Regions from separate parts of the Homo sapiens genome. Here regions 1 and 2 are each linked to region 3. The links come from fine-mapping of genetic effects on gene expression. A gene starts in region 3. Each other region holds a variant in brackets. All regions are shown on one strand. Distances are from middle to middle.

What was found. PIP is the estimated chance that this variant, and not a neighbour inherited with it, causes the effect. A credible set is the group of variants that fine-mapping cannot tell apart.
Region 1: its variant is the best candidate, but not a certain one, in a credible set for the expression of TECPR1 in whole blood (TOPMed, PIP 0.55).
Region 2: its variant is the best candidate, but not a certain one, in a credible set for the expression of TECPR1 in whole blood (INTERVAL, PIP 0.84).

Annotation. Positions count from the first base shown.
Region 1 is chr7:98,079,013-98,083,251 of GRCh38, forward strand. No RefSeq gene overlaps it. Among named protein-coding and RNA genes, the nearest start is that of LMTK2, 26 kb to the right of the region's middle. The variant C/T (reference allele first, on the strand shown) is at 2,508.
Region 2 is chr7:98,060,489-98,064,727 of GRCh38, forward strand. No RefSeq gene overlaps it. Among named protein-coding and RNA genes, the nearest start is that of LMTK2, 44 kb to the right of the region's middle. The variant C/G (reference allele first, on the strand shown) is at 2,348.
Region 3 is chr7:98,250,057-98,254,295 of GRCh38, forward strand. It overlaps TECPR1 (tectonin beta-propeller repeat containing 1), which reads right to left and starts at 2,176. Exons shown (of 26, transcript NM_015395.3): 1 at 2,070-2,176; 2 at 1,338-1,492. LOC124901706 (a long non-coding RNA gene) reads left to right here and starts at 2,303. Exons shown (of 2, transcript XR_007060448.1): 1 at 2,303-2,472; 2 at 2,828-4,239. RefSeq lists an enhancer at 1,823-2,566 and silencers at 1,883-2,272, 2,363-2,462.

The sequences.
Region 1 (4,239 bases), 170 kb before region 3:
ACACTTAATATTATTGAAATGGGCCAGGCACGGTGGCTCACACCTGTAATCCCAGTATTTTGGGAAACCTAGATGGGAGGATTGCTTGAGCCCAGGAGTTTGAGACCAGCCTGGACAACATAGCGGGACTCCATCTCTTGAAGAAAAATTTTGGGGTTGGGCACGTGGCTTATGCCTGTAATCCTAGCACTTTGGGAGGCTGAGGTGGGCAGATCACGAGGTCAAGAGTTCGAGACCAGCCTGGCCAACATGGTGAAACCCCGTCTCTACTAAGCATACAAAAATTAGCCGGGTGTGGTGGCGCGTGCCTGTAATCCCAGCTACTCGGGAGGCTGAGGCAGGAGAATTGCTTGAACTCTGGAGGTGGAGGTTGCAGTGAGCCGAGATCACACCACTGCACTCCAGCCTGGTGATAGAGTAAGAAACCATCTCAAAAAAAAAAAAAAAAGGCCGGGCACGGTAGCTCATGTCTGTAATCCCAGCACTTTGGGAGGCCAAGGGGGGGTGAATCACCTGAGGTCGAGAGTTCAAGACCAGCCTGGCCAACATGGAGAAACCCCGTCTCTACTAAAAATACAAAATTAGCCGGGCGTGGTGGCACATACCTGTAATCCCAGCTACACAGGAGGCTGAGGCAGGAGAATCACTTGAACCTGGGAGGCAGACGTTGCAGTGAGCTGAGATCGCATCATTGCACTCCAGCCTAGGCAACAAGAGTGAAACTCCATCTCAAAAAAAAAAGAGAAAAAAAATTTAATAAAAAAATGGTTAAAATGGTAAATTGTATGTTATGCATATTTTACCATAATAACAATTTTTAAAGTCTGCTCGCTCTGAGCTCAGTGTCTTCAAAAGCTCTCTGCTGGGTCCTATTAGCAGGACTAAAGGCAAGTAACATAGTGCCAAAATATCTCATCAATTCAGTCGATTCGTTGATAATTGTAATCAATACAGAGGAAAAAACTAGCCGACCCTTTCTGCACCTGTTCTCCTAGGAAAGAGCCACCTGACTCCCTAACCTGCATGAGCTGATGGCCTGGAGACATGGCTCCCCTGAGCCAGCAAACCTGACTTGTGGAAAGGTGCAACTCCTCTTACCTAGTCCAAAATTGCATAGGAGTTTTTGCTGTCTAATGACCTCAGCTGCCTTCTGAACACAGAAGTGCACACCCAGATTGGAATAAAGATGCGACAAATAGAATTCTATCTCCGTGTGTCTATACCTTGCTCAGAAACAAGGCAGAATAGCAAAATGGAAAAGCTATATGCCATCACCAGACAGCAACAATCCTTCAAGTAAGATTTTAAAAAAGAATACATGGAATGTAGCCAACCATCCCCACTAAAAATAAAACACTCCACTTCCCTCAGCCGATTCAATTATCTCTCTAAAAAAGGGCTTTTTTTTAACACCTCCCAGCAGGCAGCAGATTCAGTGAGTTGGTGAGGATAACAGTGAATAATTAAGCAACCAGTGCCCAAGGTGTGAAGGAAAACATGGACTGGCTCAACTAGGAGCAGCAGTGTCTAAGCTCCATGAATATAAATGTTTAGAAATGAATATTATTGCCTAGTGCCATCTGGAATATTTTTCATTATGTAGAGCATGTTTTGGAAAACTCTTAATGATTTCCTTTTTTGCATGCATGAGACAGGGTCTCCCTCTGTTGCCCAGGCTGGACTGCAGTGGCGTGATCACAGCTCACTGCAGCCTTGACCTCCTGAGCTCAAGCCATCCTCCCACCTCAGCCTCCCAAAGTGCTGAGATTACAGGTGTAAGCCACCGCATCCCACTAATGATTTTCTAACTGTGAAGCCATCCCTGTGACAAAGACTCTGTCCTTGACATGATATTGCTCTGAGTTGAAATTCTCACCTGGAAAATCTGCCAACGTAGGCCAAGCGCGGTGGCTCACACCTGTAATCCCAGCACTTTGGGAGGCCGAGACGGGCGGATCACCTGAGGTTGGAAGTTCAAGACCAGCCTGACCAACATGGAGAAACCCTATCTCTACTAAAAAAAATACAAAATTAGCCGGTCGCATGGTGGTGGCGCATGCCTGTAATCCCAGCTACTCAGGAGGCTGAGGCAGGAGAATTGCTTGAACCTGGAAGGCGGAGATTGTGGTGAGCTGAGATCGTGCCATTGCACTCCAGCCTGGCTGGACTTCGCTTTTCGCAACAATAGCAAAACTCTGCTCAAAAAAAGAAGAAAAAAAAAGAACATCTGCCAACGTAAACATAAAAACAGACACGCAAACAACAGTCCTCCCTTTTGCCTATTAAATAATTGAGGTTCATTACAAAAAAATGAGAACCTTTGAAAAAAAGAAAAGAAGAAACATCCACGGTGCTATCATTTAGAGACCATCACCGTCAGTATTCTAATGTTTTGGTGATTTCCTTCCAGTTTATGAATATGCGTGAGTATAAATATGCATATGAGTATGAGATCACACGACCTCCTTTTACTAATACGGTCACATGGGCATTTTGTCTTGTTCACA[C/T]GGTCACTCCTGGTTGGGTCACATTTGCATGGTTCCTGCTTTCCTGCTTTTTACAGCCTTTGACCTCTGTCCTCTGGCTGGAATACTCTCACCTTCCTTATGTTTTCCAACCTTGTCCAACCTCACCAAGATGTGATTCTCTGCTATTTATGCCTCTCTGAAATGTACATTTTACGTTAAATATATATGAATATATATATAAATATATATATGAATATATATAAATATATATATAAATATATATATGAATATATATATTCATATATATATAAATATATATATGAATATATATTTTGAAACAGAGTCTCTCTCCGTCACCCAGGCTGGGGTGTTTTGGCACAATCTCAGCTCACTGCAACCTCTGCCTCCTGGGTTCAAGTGATTCTCCTGCCTCAGCCTCCAGAGTAGCTGGGATTACAGGCACGCGCCACCATGCCTGGCTAATTTTTGTATTTTTAGCAGAGATGGGGTTTCACTAAGTTGGCCAGGCTGGTCTCAAACCCCTGACCTCAAGTGATCTGCACATGTCGGCCTCCCAAAGTGTTAGGATTATAGGCGTGAGCTACCACGCCCAGCTCATTTCACATGGTCTTGACCTCATGGCTGCATTGGAGTTTCTTTTTTTTTTTTTTTTCGAGACAGAGTCTCACTGTGTCACCCAGGCTGGAGTGCAGTGGCACGGTCTTGGCTCACTGCAACCTCCGCCTCCCGGGTTCACGCCATTCTCCTGCCTCAGCCTCCCGAATAGCTGGGACTACAGGCGCCCGCCACCACGCCCGGCTAATTTTTTGTATTTTTAGTAGAGATGGGGTTTCACCGTGTTAGCCAGGATGGTCTCGATCTCCTGACCCCGTGATCCGCCCACCTCAGCCTCCCAAAGTGCTGGGATTACAGGCGTGGGCCACCATGCCCGGCCTGCATTGGAGTTTCTGTGCTCAGGGCCTGTACTGCACAATCAGGCCTTTCTGGGGACATAGCAGCTGACACTGCCGGACCCCAGCTCTCTGGCCAGGTCTCTGGCTCCCATGGACAGCCTCTCCAGAGAGTCACCATTCACTACCCGTTCTCCCACCAGACAGAGATCAAATGTACACCATAAGAACTGTAGTTCACAATATCATATTGTATTTGGGATTTTTGCTAAAAGAATAGATTTTAGGTTGCTCTTGCCAAACACACAAATGGGTAACTATGTAAAATGATGAATACGTTCATTTACTTGGATATAGTAACCATTTGACTGATTATATGTATATCAAAACGTCATGTTGTACACCTTAAATATGTATAATAAAAAATAATAAAATAGCAAACAAAAAAAAAAAGCCTGAGGCCTCCCCCCTTTTTTCTTTTTATTTTCTTTTCTCTTTTTTTTTTTTTTTTTTTTTTTTGAGACAGTCTCACTCTGTCACCCAGGCTGGAGTGCGGTGGTATGATCAGGGTTCACTGCAGCCTCAACCTCCTGGGCTCAAGCAATCCTCCCATCTCAGCCTCCCGAGTAGCTGGGACTACAGGTGCACACCACCATGACTGGTTAATTTTTAAATTTTTTGTAGAGATAGGTCTTTCTATATTGTCCAGGTCAGTCTCAAACTTCTGGGCTCAAGTGATCCTCCTACCTCAGCCTCCCAAAGTGCTGGGATTATGGATGTGAGCCTCCACACCTGGTCCCATTCTTTTCTTTGAAATCCCCCCCACTTTTTTTTTTTTTTTTTGTAGCGTGAAAGAGTTT
Region 2 (4,239 bases), 190 kb before region 3:
ACAGCTAAACTTGTATATGTTTATTGTTTACAACATGATGTTCTGAAACACATATTCATTGCAGAATGGCCAAACCAAGCCAACCAACAGGCATACGCATCACCTCACATTTGTAATTTTTGCAGTGGAAACACTTAAAATCTACTGTTTTAGCATTTTTCAAGAAAACAACATATTGTTATTTTATTTTTATTTTTTGAGGCAGGGTATCTCTCTCTCACCCAGGCTGGAGTGCAATGGCACAATCACAGCTCACTTCAGCCTCAGACTCCTGGGCTCAAGTGGTCCTCTCTCCTCAGCCTCCCGAGTAGCTGAGACTACAGGTGCGCACCACCACGCCTGGCTGATTTTTAAACTTTTTGTAGAGATGGGGTCTCGTTATTTTGCCCTGGCTGGTCTTGAACTCCCGGGCTCAAGCAATCCTCTGGCCTCAGCCTCTCACAGCACTGGGATTACAGGCATGAGCTACCTTGCCCAGCCAATATATTGGTCACCATGTTGTACAACCAATCTCTTGAGCTTATTTCTCTTATCTAACTGAAATTTTGTAAACTTTGACCAACATCTCCCAAACTTCCTCCCCTATCACTACCCCAAGCCCCCTGGTAACCTGGGCTCTGCCATATCACAGAGCAGACGATGGAATAACAGGCCATTCTACTCTGTACTTCTCTGAAATGGACTTTTTCAGATGCCCCATGTAAGTGAGATCACACAGTATTTGTCTTTCTGTGCCTGGCTTATTTCAGTTAACATAATTTCCTCCAGGTTCACCCATGTTGTTGCAAATGATAGGATTTCCTCCTTTTGTGGCTGAATAGTATTCCACGTTTCCTTTATCCATTCATCCAGTGATGGACACTTAGGTTGATTTCACATCTTGGCGATTGTGAATAATGCTGTCAATCAGGAGTGCAAAAGACTTAAAAAAGGAAAAATTTGGCCTGGCGTGGTGGCTCATGCCTGTAATCCCAGCACTTTGGGAGGCCGAGGCGGGCGGATCATGACGTCAGGAGATCGAGACCATCCTGGCTAACATGGTGAAACCCCCTCTCTACTAAAAATACAAAAAATTAGCCAGGCATGGTGGCGGGCGCCTGTAGTCCCAGCTACTCGAGAGGCTGAGGCAGGAGAATTGCTTGAACCCGGGAGGCAGAGGTTGCAGTGAGCTGAGATTGCGCCACTGAACTCCAGCCTGTGTGACAGAGCGAGTCTCCGTCTCAAAAAAAAAAAAAGGAAAAAAAAATTTAAAAGATAATGACGTCATTAACATGAGTGTGCAGATATCTCTTTGATGTACTGATTCTACTTTTTTTTTTTTTGAGACAGAGTCTCACTCTGTCATCCAGGCTACAGTGCAGTGGCACGATCTCAGCTCACCACAACTTCTGTCTCCTGGGTTCAAGCAGTTCTCCTGCCTCAGCCTCCTGCGTAGCTGGGATTACAGGCACGTGCCACCACACCTGGCTAACTTTTATATTTTTAGTAGAGACAGCGTTTGACCATGTTGGCCAGGCTGGTCTTGAACTGCTGACCTCAGGTCTCCCAAAGTGCTAGGATTACAGGCGTGAGCCACCACGCCCCAGCCTGATTCTACTTCTTTTGGCTATATGCCCAGTAGTGGAATTGCTAGATCATATGCTAGGTCATATGCTAAATTTTTAAATTTTTTGAGGAATCTCCATACTGTTTTCCACAGTGGTTCCCATGATGGCTGTACTGATTTACATTCCCACCAACAGTGTGCGAATGTCCCTTTTCTCCACATCCTCACCAACACTTAATCTTTCATCTTTTTTCAAATAGCCATTCGGACAGGTATGAAGTGATATCTCATTGTCAATTTTTTTGAGACAGGGTCTCGCTCTGGAGTGCAGTGGCTCAATCATAGCTCGTTGCAGCCTTGGCCTTCTGAGCTCAAGCAATCCTCCTGCCTCAGCCTCCCAAGTAGCTGGAACTACAGGTGCACACCATCATGCCTGGCTATTTTTTTTTTTTAATTTTTTATGGAGACGGGGTCTCACTTTGTTGCCCAGGCTGGTCCTCCCTCCTATGCCTCCCTCCATAAGGCTTTGTAAGCACTGCCAAGCAAGCTATCTCACGGGCCTTTCTTCTTTGTGCCTGTCACAAGGGCAATTTCACATTTGTTTGTGCTGTTATTTATTTGTTATTTATTTATTTATATATTTTTTGGAGACAGAGTCTCACTCTGTCACCCAGGCTGGAGTGCAGTGGTGTGATCTCAGCTCACTACAACCTCTGCCTCCAGGGTTCAAGCGATTCTCCTTCCTCAGCCTCCTGAATAGCTGGGATTACAGGCGTCTGCCACCACCCCCGGCTAATTTTT[C/G]TGTATTTAGTAGAGACAGGGTTTCACCATGTTGGCCAAATTAGTCTTGTACTCCTCAATTCAAGTGACCTGCCTGCCTCAGCCTCCCAAAGTGCTGGGATTACAGACGTGAGCCACTAAGCCCAGCCTTGGCTTGTTATTTTATCAGCACCTGTATCAGGGATCTTTGGGTGACCGAAAGCCGAACACAAGCTGACTTAAGCAAGAAGGGCATATCTTGGGTTATTCACTGAACTCGAAGTCAGGGCAGTGATATGATGGAGCAGCTTACTGACTGTGTGCAATCTCTCCCAAGCCTGAGTTCAATCAGCCTGGTGAGAATATTTACACTATGGAAATTGGCAGATGCTATGAATCAGGGCTCTCTTACCCCTCACCCCAGAGCTGATTGTTAAACATTTACCAGCACACCACTGGATGTTTATTTCAGGTATGGCTGCATACAGAGGCCAAATGATGTCACCAACCCCTGACCTCGCTTTATCTCTCTGGCTTTCCTCTGCTGGCTACTCTCAAGCAGGCTTTCCCTTTATGATATGTGACAGTGGTGACAGTTCTAGCCTGCAAGCTTCCAGGGCAAGTGAAGGGCAAGAGAAAGGACCCCTTTCTCCCATGTCAAAGCCTCATTTTGTCTCTCTAGCTCAAAGTGGATTACATATCTGTTTCTTTTCTTTAAAAACATCGTTTTTGGGCTGGGCGCAGTGGCTCACGCCTGTAATCCCAGCACTTTGGGAGGCCGAGGGGGGTGGATCACGAGGTCAAGAGATCAAGACCATCCTAGCCAACAGGATGAAACCCCATCTCTACTAAAAATACAAATATCAGCTGGGCATGGTGGTGTGCACCTGTAGTCCCAGCTACTCAGGAGGCTGAGGCAGGAGAATCGCTTGAACCCACGAGGCAGAGGTTTTAGTGAGCCGAGATTACACCACTGCACTCCAGCCTGGGTGACAGAGCGAGATTTCATCTTAAAAACAACAACAACAACAACAACAACAACAACAAAATACATTGTTTTCGTTTTTTGTTTTGTTTTTTTTTTTAGAGATGGGTCTTGCTCTGTCACCCAGGCTGGAATGCAATGGTGCAATCATAGCTCAGTGCAGCCTCGAACTCCTAGGCTCAAGCGATCCTCCTGCCTCAGCCTCCTGAGCAGCTGGGTCTACAGGCATGCACCACCACACTCAGCTAATTTTTTAAAAAAATTTTGTTGTAGAGACAGGGTCTCACTATGTTGTCCAGGCTGGTTTCAAACTCCTGGGCTCAAGCAATCCTCCTGCCTTGGCCTCCCAAAGTCCTGAGATTACAGGCATGAGCCGTCATGACTGGTAGATTACATGTCTGTTTCTAAACCAATCACTGTAGCCATTTAAAATTGAGTTGAAAAAAATATATAGCCAGGTGTGGTGGCTCACGTCTGTTGTCCCAGCTGCTCAGGAGGCTGAGGTGGGAGGATCACTTGAGCCCAGAAGTTGGAGGCTGCAGTGAGCCATGATTGTGCCACTGCATACCAGCCTGGGCAATAGAACAAGACCCCCCATCTCAGAAAAAAGGCCAGTGGCAGTTGAAAATTATTTATTGTGTGCCTACTATGTGCCAGGCACTGTTCCAGGCTCTTGAGTTTCAAGATAATCAACATAGGAAAAATCCCCTATGCCTCCAGAACTTATGTTCTAATGAAGGGAGACAGACCAAAACCAAGAATGATCAAAGTCAGGGGTTAAGAAGTGCAACAGAGAGGCTGGGCATGGTGGCTCATCCCTGTAATCCCAGCACTTTGAGAGGCCAAGGAGGGTGGATCATTTGAGGTCAGGAGTTCGAGACCAGTCTGGCTAACATGGTGAAACCTTGTCTCTACTAAAAATACAAAAATTAGCCGGGCGTGGTGGTAC
Region 3 (4,239 bases):
ACTGCCAACTCCCTGATCTAAGACAGAAATACTTCTCCAGGGAAAACAAATGCCACAAATAACTTGAAAAGTAAGGTCATAATTGGTGGACAGATATGTGATAAAGCAAGTAAAGTGTCAATAGTAGAATCTAGTTGGTGGGGATGGGGATGCTGACTGTATAATTCTTTCAACTTGGCTGTATGTGGGAAAATCCTCAATAAAATGCTAGGGGAAGACGAAGGTTTTTTTTTTTAATTGTCACTTTCTATAGTGTTAAATATAAGTTAGCCTTCAAAGATAGCTCAGAGGCCAGGTGCAGTAGCTCATGCCTGTAATCCCAGCCCTTTCCGGGGCTGAGGTGGGAGGATCGCTTGAGCCGAGGAGTTCAAAACCAGCCTAAGCAACACAGGGAGACCCCATCTCTGTAAAAATAAAAAGTTAAAAAAAAAATTAGCCAGGTGTGGTGGCACATGCCTGTGATCCTAGCTACTTGGGAGGCTGAGGCAGGAGGATCACTTGAGCCCAGGAGTTTGAGGCTACAGTGAGCTATGATTGTGCCACTGCACTCCAGCCTGGGCAGCAGAGCGAGACCCTGTCTCAAAAAGGAAAACAAACAACAACAACAACAACAACAAAACAAAGATAGCTCAGAATTCACTGGATAAGCAAGCAGTTTAGCTAGACTCAGTCTGCAGGTTGAGCTCAATGAAAGGAGATTTTGACTTTCCTTCAAATAAATGACTAAGCACTAATTTCCTCATAGACATCATTGAATCTTCTGGGCAGTTAATGGGAGAAGACTCTGCTACAGTGAAAGGGAGGGGTGGGGGGTTGCTGTATTTACAAACTCCCTTCAGAGTAGAGACCCAGGCACCTGTCGTCACTTCCTAGCTACAGTTGACATCCGGTAACCATCCTTGGTCAGCCACACTTTCTTTCTGCCTCTGCCAAGAGGCTCCCCCTAGCTCCTCATGGGCCACTTTCTGGCTGTGAGCTGATCAGGCAACTTACACAGGGTCACTGGGTCAGAGGACTCTTGAAAGGGGGGTTGGAACATGAAGCCCCATGATTCAGGGATCCTGGGACTTGTTTGTTTTGTAGGGTTAGAGGGATGGAGGAAAATCTTCCAAATCAGCAGCCTCGAATTCACCAAGAATTTCTACAAGATGAATTTGAGTTGAACCTTCAGTCTTTCCACGAAGAAGGTCTGCTCGCCACCCTCAAAGCCATCTGCCTTTCTGTCTCAGTTTATTCACAGATCCTTTCAGAGACCAAAAAAAGCACCCAAGAGAGGCGGGGACAGAGATGTGGTAGAGGAAAAGACACAGTACAAAGAACGCTCCGCAAGCACTTACTTCCTCTGAGCCTTAGGAGTCCTACCTAAAAGGTTTCTTGCTTGTTTTTCTATTACACTGTCACTCCCATCCGGTATGCAAACAGTCGGCAATGCCTACTACAGTAGCTCGCTGGCTGCCAGGTGCAGGGGCTGTTCAAAAGCGACATCAGGGTCCTAAAAGGTGGGAAAAAGCAGCAGAACTTGCATGGTAGTTGATTCTTTCCTGAAGAATAGGGTCCGCCCAGCCCCACCGGGCAGGAGGTGTCCTGAGTCAGCCTGGCGTTCAGCCCAGTGCTGTGCACTTGGGTGACAGGTGGGGCCCCTGCACTGCCACCAGTAGCATATGTCGGAGCTCTGGGCCCTGACCATCTGCCAAAGCTAATCTTACGACAAGCAGATTTGCTCCCATCAATACCCAGGGAGAGGGATAGGCAGGCCCCTTGCTGCGTGATTCTCGAAAACAACCAGGATCCCGCGATCCGCTTCTCCTATGGCTCCAGTCCAAAGGCTGGAATGGGGGCGTCACCTGCACCAGGCAACTTCGCTAGCCTGTGGGCGTTCCAGGGCAGGGGACGGGGGCGGCACCTTCCAGGTGTGCAGGCGAGATGACAAGTGCGGTCCCTCCTTCCTCCCTCCCCGCGAGCAAACAGCCTGGGGGTGGTGGGGAAGGCGGCGTGCCCAGCCCTTCATCGCCCCATTCTTTCCCACGGCCCTGGCCGCCGCTGCAGCTGGGGCGCCACTCTGCACTCACCTGGGCCCGCGCCGGGCGGGGCGAAGTCGCGGTGGTAGGTCCTCGGCGTCCGGGAGGAGCGGACCGGCCCTCCCGGGGACCGGGCAAGAGGGTGGGCCGGAAGCGGCATCAGGCCCCGTGCCCATTGGCCAGCCTCGCCAGGACGCTGCGACCTGGGACGTGCGATTGGCTGCGGTGCGCCGCGTCGGTGCTGGCTTCGAGGTCGCGCGCCCGCCCACTTCCGGGGTCGCGCCAGGTCAGGAGTCCAGAGTCGGCTGAAGCGAGTTGCCGCGTTCTCTCTGGCGGCGCGACACCGGCCCGTGGACCGCCCGGCCGCCCTCCAGGACCCGGTCTGCAGGAGCGGAGAGGGCGGTGTGGACACCGCCTGCAGGCGAGGAGAAGGGGTGGCGGAGAGGGTACCTGGGTGCGTGGCTGTGCGGCGTCAGGAGGAGCAGGGTGTGGGCGCCCGGCCTGGGGCGTGGAGAGGACGCAGGGAACAGGTGTCTTCCTGGTATCCATCGAACTGAAACGTAGCCCTTGAGCACACACTACACTTAAAGCTTTACTCTTTCGAGGAGGAGTCCTGGAAGCATATGTGATTTTGTGACTATAGCATGGTGTGGTGTCAGTAACAGGCCCTGGATTGCTCAAACTCTATTGTCAGTGACAAAACCCAGTGTAAGCTGGCCTAATATATTAATAGTAATATGCGAGTCCTCCCGGGGTGGCGGGCACTGACGTAAGTGCTTTACTTGGGTCTTCTCATTTCATCCTCCCAGCAACCCAAAGAGCTGGCGGCGTCATTCCCATTTTACAAATGCGAACACGGGCTCAGAGATGGAGCGACTCACGTTGTAAGCGATGGAACTGGGATTTGAAAACACTGTATCCCGCCTGGCAGAAAACTGGCAAGGTTAGGATGGAGAAAGGAGAAAAAAGAAAGATGTCGGCCAGGTGCGGCGGTTCATACCTGTAATCCCAGCACTTTGGGAGGCCAAGGCGGGCGGATCACTTGAGGTCAGGGGTTTGAGACCAGCCTGGCCAAGATGGTGAAACCCCGTCTCTAGTAAAAATGCAAAATTAGCCAGGGGTGGTGGCGCATGCCTGTAATCTCAGCTACTCGGGAGACTGAGGCAGGAAAATCGCTTGAACTGGGGAGGTGGAGGTTGCAGTGAGCTGAGATCGTGCCACTGTGCCACCGCACTACAGCCTGGGCGACAAGAGCAAAACTCCTTCTCAAAAAAGAAAAAAAAGGGCATCTGATGGAAGGCTAGATACTACCCGACATTGAGCTAAACCAATGTCACCTGGTTGGACCTAGGGACCTATTCCTGCTCCCCCTCTAGTTCTGTCTCATTTCTGGGGTTGCACACAGGCTTTTCCTGGGCCTTCATGTTTGGGGAAGCCCCACACAGGCCAGCTCCAGTGGAAGAAAACGCCCCCAGAAGCCTCTTGTTCACCCCGGATGGCTCTGTGGAGTCCTGTGTCTGACCCTGACTTTAGCTTGGGCCTGAGGGACTGGCATTTGTGGACTTGGTCTGGAGATGTGGGCAGAGCCCCCCTCAAGCATAAGGGCTCAGCCAGGCACAGGGGGTGGCTCCTCAGAGGAAGATCAGGGTGCTATTAGCAGAAGGACGATGAGTGGGCCGGGCGCAGTGGTTCACGCCTGTAATCCCAGCCCTTTGGGAGGCCGAGGCGGGTGGATCATGAGGTCAGGAGATGAGACCATCCTGGCTAACATGGTGAAACACCGTCTCTACTAAAAACACAAAAAATTAGCCGGGCGTGGTGGCGGGCGCCTGTAGTCCCAGCTACTCGGGAGGCTGAGGCAGGATAATGAGGTGAACCCAGGAGGCGGAGCTTGCAGTGAGCTGAGATTGTGCCACTACACTCCAGCCTGGGCAACAGAGCAAAACTCTGTCTCAAAAAAAAAAAAAAAAAAAAAAAAGGAGGATGAGTGGTCGCTAGACTGCTGGAGAAACAGTCTAGAGGTAGGGAGCCCTGGGTTCTGTCCTGCCTGTGACACTCTGTAGCCATTTATCTCCTCTTTAGCTTTAGTTTCCACATTAAAAGAGGCATTGAAAAAAAATGAAAAAGAGGCATTGAATTAGGAGCTTTCTGTGGCCCCTTGCAGTTTTCATGTGTGGTGACAAAGTTCAATATAGTTTTCCTGAATTCAGGGGCTTGGGGA